Homo sapiens: one gene and its partner. The protein of the gene in region 1 purifies or fractionates together with the protein of each later gene. This does not show direct contact. Each region holds a gene or a part of one and is shown on either strand. Other genes may lie near its edges.

What was found.
Region 2: the proteins of NKAPL (region 1) and TNFRSF10D purify together in Homo sapiens (affinity purification with mass spectrometry; one large-scale study listed by BioGRID and IntAct). This does not show direct contact.

The regions. Positions count from the first base shown.
Region 1 is NC_000006.12:28,257,730-28,261,644, forward strand, and holds NKAPL (NKAP-like protein), read left to right. Parts: upstream 1-1,567; 5' UTR 1,568-1,642; coding exon 1,643-2,851; 3' UTR 2,852-3,229; downstream 3,230-3,915.
Region 2 is NC_000008.11:23,146,766-23,150,580, reverse strand, and holds part of TNFRSF10D (tumor necrosis factor receptor superfamily member 10D precursor), read left to right. Parts: intron 1-2,029; coding exon 2,030-2,143; intron 2,144-3,508; coding exon 3,509-3,620; intron 3,621-3,815. UniProt on the Homo sapiens protein: Receptor for the cytotoxic ligand TRAIL. Contains a truncated death domain and hence is not capable of inducing apoptosis but protects against TRAIL-mediated apoptosis. Reports are contradictory with regards to its ability to induce the NF-kappa-B pathway.

The DNA of each region.
Region 1 (3,915 bases):
GCCAGCCCCTAGTCTAGGTCATAACTTTTCTAAAGATCAAAAATATATTCTAAATTTCATTTTCCTGTGTCGCTACCTGAAAGAAGTATTTCATCAACCAGCTTTGTAATTCAAGTCTACATCAGATACTAAATGGCTTAAATTTACAATTATCCAAGTAAGACATATCCATTTCATTGGCCTATCAAGTAGTTTATAACTCCAAAAGAAAATTTTCTTTACTTACACAAACTCTATAGTACTCACCCTATCCATATGATATTTTCACTATACATGTGACCATTCACATATAATACTCCCTGCTGTTTACCAGTTCCTAAATTCATATAATTTATGTATGGAACCAATTCTTATCCCCTTCAATCAAAGTACTAAAATTCTACTTAGAGCAAATGATATGATTTGGTCTTATTCAATTTAATTTCCCCCATTTTGTTGTTTAGAGTTCTAGCATCAGGAAGGCATCATTCTTAAGTTTTGACCTGGCTGTCAAACAACTGAGCAGATCAACTTAATTAGAGAGAACCAAGATGATGTTAATGCCTATTTACATTTTAAGATGAGAGATAAATGATCTTGCATAAAACGTTTATCATTTCTGAGAGTGAGATCTAATGTGTATCGAGAAAGTGGTTTCCAAACTACAAAGTTTCTGAAGAAGTCTCCCTAGATAGAAAGACATCTGTCTACAAGATCGAGTGGGATGCTTCTGTGTGTTTCTAGGGTGGAAAAGTCTGTGAATTTAATAATTAAAATCATGACTCTGGGCCGGGCATGGTGGCTCACACCTGTAATTCCAGCACTTTGTAAGGCTGAGGTGGGAGGATCGCTTGAACCCAGGAGTTTGAGACCAGACTCAGAAACAAAGTGACAACGGTCTCTACAAATAATTATTAAAAAAATCAACCTGGCGTGGTGGTGGGCACCTGCAGTCCCAGCTCCTCGGGAGGATCTCTTGAACCTAGGAAGTCAAGTCGGCCCTGAGCCATGATCGTGCCACTGCACCCCAACCTGGGCGACAGAGTGAGATCCTGTCTCCAAAAAAAAAAAAAAAAAGTACGACTTTGGCCTTCACCTAGCTTAGAGGGTGAGCTCAAACTGATTCCAAAAGAAGTTTTGGTTCTTGCTTCCAGTGGTAACAAGGGGGGTTGGGAAGTGATTAATTAAACATATTTCCTCCACGAAGAGGGTGGACAAGTTCCTTTTTTAGGAAGGAAAAAAGGAGGAGCGTTGGTAGTAGGGATCTTCCACAGAGGGGTAAAGTTAAGGAGGTGGAAATGAAAGGGAAGAACAAAGGGTGAGAAGCAAAATGGTAAAAGCGAAATCGAAAAAGAGAAGTGGGTGTTCCAACAGTAGAGGGGATCATTGACGCAAATTCGTCCTTTTATGTTCCCACACGGCTCAAGTTGGGGAATATAAGTCCTAAAAACAGGCGCACCCTAATCCTACCTACTTCCCACAAGAAGCCTTCACGCAGCCAAGGCCCGCCCCACATAGCACACGCGCGGATTCGTTTTCCGTTTGGTAACTGACAGGAAGCGGAAGCCGTGCGTGGGAGGCCGATTCTAGTGCGCCTGCGTGGCCGCGAATCACCAGCCAGCCTCTGGGTCTGTAGCAACCGCCCAGCGTTGAGGCGCGGCTCATGCCCCCAGTATCCCGGTCCAGCTATTCCGAGGACATCGTGGGCTCTCGGAGAAGGCGACGCAGCTCCTCGGGGAGCCCACCATCCCCGCAGAGCAGATGTTCCTCTTGGGATGGCTGTTCCCGCTCTCACTCCCGCGGCCGTGAGGGCCTCAGGCCTCCTTGGAGTGAGTTGGACGTGGGCGCTCTTTACCCCTTTAGTCGCTCTGGGTCGCGAGGGCGGCTCCCAAGATTCCGCAACTACGCCTTCGCGTCCTCCTGGTCGACCTCGTATAGTGGATATCGCTACCATCGTCACTGCTATGCAGAAGAACGGCAGTCAGCGGAAGACTACGAGAAGGAAGAGAGCCATCGGCAGAGGAGGCTGAAGGAGAGAGAGAGGATTGGGGAATTGGGAGCGCCTGAAGTGTGGGGGCCGTCTCCAAAGTTCCCTCAGCTAGATTCTGACGAACATACCCCAGTTGAGGATGAAGAAGAGGTAACGCATCAGAAAAGCAGCAGTTCAGATTCCAACTCGGAAGAACATAGGAAAAAGAAGACCAGTCGTTCAAGAAACAAGAAAAAAAGAAAGAATAAGTCGTCTAAAAGAAAGCATAGGAAATATTCTGATAGTGACAGTAACTCAGAGTCTGACACAAATTCTGACTCTGATGATGATAAAAAGAGAGTTAAAGCCAAGAAGAAAAAGAAGAAAAAGAAACACAAAACAAAGAAAAAGAAGAATAAGAAAACCAAAAAAGAATCCAGTGACTCAAGCTGTAAAGACTCAGAAGAGGACTTGTCAGAAGCTACCTGGATGGAGCAGCCAAATGTGGCAGATACTATGGATTTAATAGGGCCAGAAGCACCTATAATACATACCTCTCAAGATGAAAAACCTTTGAAGTATGGCCATGCTTTGCTTCCCGGTGAAGGTGCAGCTATGGCTGAGTATGTAAAAGCTGGAAAGCGAATCCCACGAAGAGGTGAAATTGGGTTGACAAGTGAAGAGATCGGTTCTTTTGAATGCTCAGGTTATGTCATGAGTGGTAGCAGGCATCGCAGAATGGAGGCTGTACGACTGCGTAAGGAGAACCAGATCTACAGTGCTGATGAGAAGAGAGCTCTTGCATCCTTTAACCAAGAAGAGAGACGAAAGAGAGAAAGTAAGATTTTAGCCAGTTTCCGAGAGATGGTGCACAAAAAGACAAAAGAGAAAGATGACAAGTAAGGACTTACTTGTTGCACAGCAGGAATTTTAACAACAAAAATTTTATGTGACCAAAAGTGTTAAAAGGCTTTACAGTGCTACTGTACTTACCATATTAGTAAGTCCCTCAGGAAAAAGCTTCTTTTGAGATATCTTTAGCAGCTTATTTTTTGTTATTTTAACTTTAAAAAGTAATATGTGCACATGGTTTTAAAAATATTCAACCATTATAGGAGGAGAGTTAGTAAAAAGTGAATCTTTCACTTTAGCCCCTGACACCTTTCCCCCAAAAATATATATTTTGGTGTCTTATATACAGAATATACATTCTGTGCATATACAAGAGTATATGTTGCAGCATAAAGATTAAAAGCTATTAAAGTTTTTTTTCGCTCGTTACTCTTTTGCCATTCATTTGCCCCGGGGGGACCAAAAGAAGCCCAGAAAGAACAAAGGATTCAATCAAGTGTATACTTCTACTTTCAGTTAATAGACTGGCTTAGAAAATAGAAAAGATTTAGTGGCTCTTACAAATGAAAAGTCTAGAAGAAGGATGGATTTTCTGCATGGCTTTAATTGGACATTGGCTTTCTTCTCCACTTTTTTTCCAAGGGTCATTTTCCTTGGGCTGGTTTCCCTTATATAACAAAAAGGCTGCCAAAGCTCCTGATTTTGGTTATCTTTTTTCTGGTCCATCTCTGAAGAGAGAACATTTCTTAGTTGCTAATCCAAACAAGAATCCAGAGATTCACCATAATGGGATAAGCTTGGGTCACATGCCCACTCAAAACAAGTGTTGTTGCTTAGGAAATAGAATGGCTTATCTGTGGAGTCATAGACCAGTTATAGAGGAATGGATTCTTGAATGAAAATCAGGGTAATTTTGGGCAAGGGGGATAGACAACCATAGACGCGTACTACAGTTTCGAATGCTTTTTTAAAAAACGTATAATGAAAGTACATGTGCTAAAAGTGAACATTTTCTTGAAGAAAAACTTGGCTTCGACTATTAGAAGTCAGATTCTAATTTAAGAGGATATAGGGTTTATTCATAAAAAGAGATATAAAAGATGGAGATCAGAGTG
Region 2 (3,815 bases), on another chromosome or scaffold:
AGGCTGTTGTAAATGTCTATTCCTTTCGGGTTGGTTACTTGTGCTTCATTTTGTTTCTTTGGTGCCGTCACTGTTCCCTGATTGCTCAGGAGCCTGTGGCAATATGTTGGAATGTGCACTTTGAAGAAGCAGGGACTTAATCCAGTATTTACAGACTGGCTTTGTCAGGGAACGCCCTTCACCAGTCAGCCTGTTCACAGATTCTGGGCAGGCCATGTGGTGTGGTTCAAGGGTGGTCAGAGCCAGTATCCAGAGAGGTGACCTGAGGCCTGGCTCCATGAGGGCTGAACTGGCACTGGAATAGGCCTTGTACTTGGGTCTGCAGATGTCAGCCAGGTGCTGTGATGGGTCTCATCCTTGGGTCCACAGGGAAGGGCCTGGAGCCTGAGTTCATGGGGACTGACCTGGCACTAGGACAGATCTGGAAGCTGAATCTATGGAGGTGGGTCAGGATCCTGGGTCTGTAGTGCTAGCCCGAAGGCACAAGCTAAGACTGATATCTTAGCTTATCATGCCTTTATCATGCCCTTATCTCTATGTGTTTCCAGACTTCTGTTTCCTGCACTTTCTGGTTCTTTATTCCATAGGGACATGTTGGATGATTTCTGTCAGTCAGGCACCGTGCTAATGGGATAATTATAAGAGGCCCTGCCCTCGTGGAACCTTTTCTCTGGGATAGTATTAAGACACACAGATCAAAATAACAGTCAGAAATTCCTGATAGGAACCATGAAGAAATTAAGTGATGAGTGAGACAGAGACGAGGTTGGTGGGGCCTCTCGGGGATGGTGATTTTGGCCAGTCTCCAAAGCTGGACAGGGATAGTTGTGCAGAGAGCCAGAAATGGTGCTCCTGAGCAGCCTCCCTAGGAATGACAGTCCCAGGGTGCAGGCGCTGGGGGATACCGAGCAGAGACGGGGCCACCATAGTGAGTGGACAGCAAACAGGTCAGGTGGACCAGCATGGGCAGATCACATGTAGATGAGGTTGGATTTTATTTTGTTATTTTATTTTATTGTTAAAAAAAAAAAAAAGTAGACTGGGCGTGGCATGGTGGCTCACGCCTGTAATCCCAGCACTTTGGGAAGCCGAGGAGGGTGGATCACCTGAGGTCAGGAGTTGGAGACCAGCCTGGCCAATATGATGATACACCGTGTCAACTAAGAATACAAAAAATTAGCTGGGCGTGGTGGTGGGTGCCTGTAATCCCAGCTACTCAGGAGGCTGAGGCAGGAGAATCGCTTGAACCTGGGAGGTGGAGGTTGCAGTGAGCCAAGGTCGCGCCATTGCCCTCCAGCCTGGGTGACAAGAGTGAAACTCTGTCTCCAAAAAAAATTTTAAAAAAGATAAAATATTTCTTTTCTTTTCTTTTCTTTTTTTTTTTTTTTTTTGAGACAGAGTCTTGCTCTGTCGCCCAGGCTGGAGTTCAGTGGCACAGTCTCAGCTCACTGCAAGCTCTGCCTCCCGGGTTCACGCCATTCTCCTGCCTCAGCCTCCCGAGTAGCTAGGATTACAGGTGCCTGCCACCACGCCCGGCTAATTTTTTGTATTTTTAGTAGAGATGGGGTTTCACTGTGTTAGCCAGGATGGTCTCGATCTCCTGACCTCGTGATTCGTCCGCCTTGGCCTCCCTAAGTACTGGGATTACAGGCGTGAGCCACCGTGCCTGGCCAAAAAAAGATAAAATATTTCAAATATTTATATTGATTACATATTGAAATGTAGTGTTTTGGATATTTTTAGGCTAAAAAATAGTTAAAATTAATTTGACCTCATTCTTTGTACTATTTTAATGTGGCTTTCATAGAATTTGAATTTTGCATGTGATTTGTATTATATTTCTGTCAGCAGTGCCAGTCAAAGGTATGTAATAGTGTAATAGATGCAGAATTGATGACAAGACCAAGCCAAGAAGAGCAGATTTCTCTGTCTGGATTCCACTGAGGGCCAAAAGAGAAATTTGCCAGCCATTGTCAGCCTCTGGGAATTCTGTGGTGACTCATTCATTAACTTTTCTCTCCCTTCCCAGGATCTCATAGATCAGAATATACTGGAGCCTGTAACCCGTGCACAGAGGGTGTGGATTACACCATTGCTTCCAACAATTTGCCTTCTTGCCTGCTATGTACAGTTTGTAAATCAGGTACAGAATGTGTGGACCCCTTGCCCAGAGGTGGAGTGCATAGTGATGAGGTGGGAGCTGTAGCCGATGTGAGTCGGGGAACCAAGTTCTAGCCCAACTTGGTAGTCTTCATCATGCCCTGTTCCATGATTATGACTAGTTGATTAAAAAAAAAAAATAGAAATCTTTTTTTTCTTTTCTTTTATTTATTTATTTTTTTGAAGACAGTTTCACTCTTGTTGCTGAGGCTTGAGGGCAATGGCATGATCTTGGCTCACTGCAACCTCTGCCTCCCAGGTTTAGTGATTCTTCTACCTCAGCCTCCTAAGTAGCTGGGATCACAGGCATGCACCACCACACCCAGCTAATTTTTTTTTTTTTTTTTTTTTTTTGGGAGACGGAGTCTCGTTCTGTTGTCCAGGCTGGAGTGCAGTGGCGCGATCTCGGCTCACTGCAAGCTCCGCCTCCTGAGTTCACGCCATTCTCCTGCCTCAGCCTCCTGAGTAGCTATGACTACAGGTGCCCGCCACCACACCCGGCTAATTTTTTTTTGTATTTTTAGTAGAGACGGGGTTTCACCGTGTTAGCCAGGATGGTCTCGATCTCCTGACCTCGTGATCCACCCACCTCGGCCTCCCAAAGTACTGGGCTTACAGGCATGAGCCACCGTGCCCAGCCAGTTTTTTGTGTTTTTAGTAGAGACAGGGTTTCTCCATGTTGGCCAGGCTGGTCTCGAACTCCCGACCTCAGGTGATCCGCTTGCCTCAGCCTCCCAGAGTGCTGTGATTACAGGTGTGAGCCACTGCGCCTGGCCAAAATCTTTTCTGTAATGCATGCCACCAGGCTGGGAAATCTTCTAAACTATTGCCTGCAGCCGGGTGGGGGCATCATTACAGCATAGAGGAGGCCTGGCCCAGTGGACAGGGCTGGGTTCCAGCAGTGGCACAGGTCTGCTCCGTGGCCAGGCTCTCTCCTCCCGGGCTCTGTGCTCCTGAAAGGTGCTTGGCCTCACTTAGCCTTCAGGTTCTCAGGCCCCTTCCTCTTCCCCAGCAAGGCCGGGGCTTTTGGGAAGTCCCCCAAGGGCCCCTCTCCTTGCAGAGTCTCTCAGGTGATGCCCTTGCGCCTCCCTTGCTACTGACCATGCCATCTAAACAATGCTTTTCCCCTAACCTGATATAATAAATAATGAATCACGGTCCTTTTGTATTGGTCCTTACATACAGGGTGGGTGTCCTGTATGAGTCCCGAGTGTGCTGGTGCAGAAACCAGCCCTCAGAACTCCTTGGTGAACTGAGTTGAGCTGAGTGGGAGGGGATGGGGTGGTGAGGAAGGGTGGACAGACATGTCAGGGAAACACATTCTCAAAACCTTATGCTCTGTTGTCAGGTCAAACAAATAAAAGTTCCTGTACCACGACCAGAGACACCGTGTGTCAGTGTGAAAAAGGAAGCTTCCAGGATAAAAACTCCCCTGAGATGTGCCGGACGTGTAGAACAGGGTAAGACAGCAGCCAGGGGCTCCCAACAGCTTTCAGGAACCTGAAAAGACCTGATTCACCTGGTACCTCTATCTCTCCGCTGACCCCATGGATCCTCCAGGCCCGAGGCCTCCCTGAGCCTGTGGGGTTTCCTGAGCCTGCGTTGGCCCCTCCTGGTCCATCTGCCTGTCCCCACCCCTACCCCCTGCAGCAGCC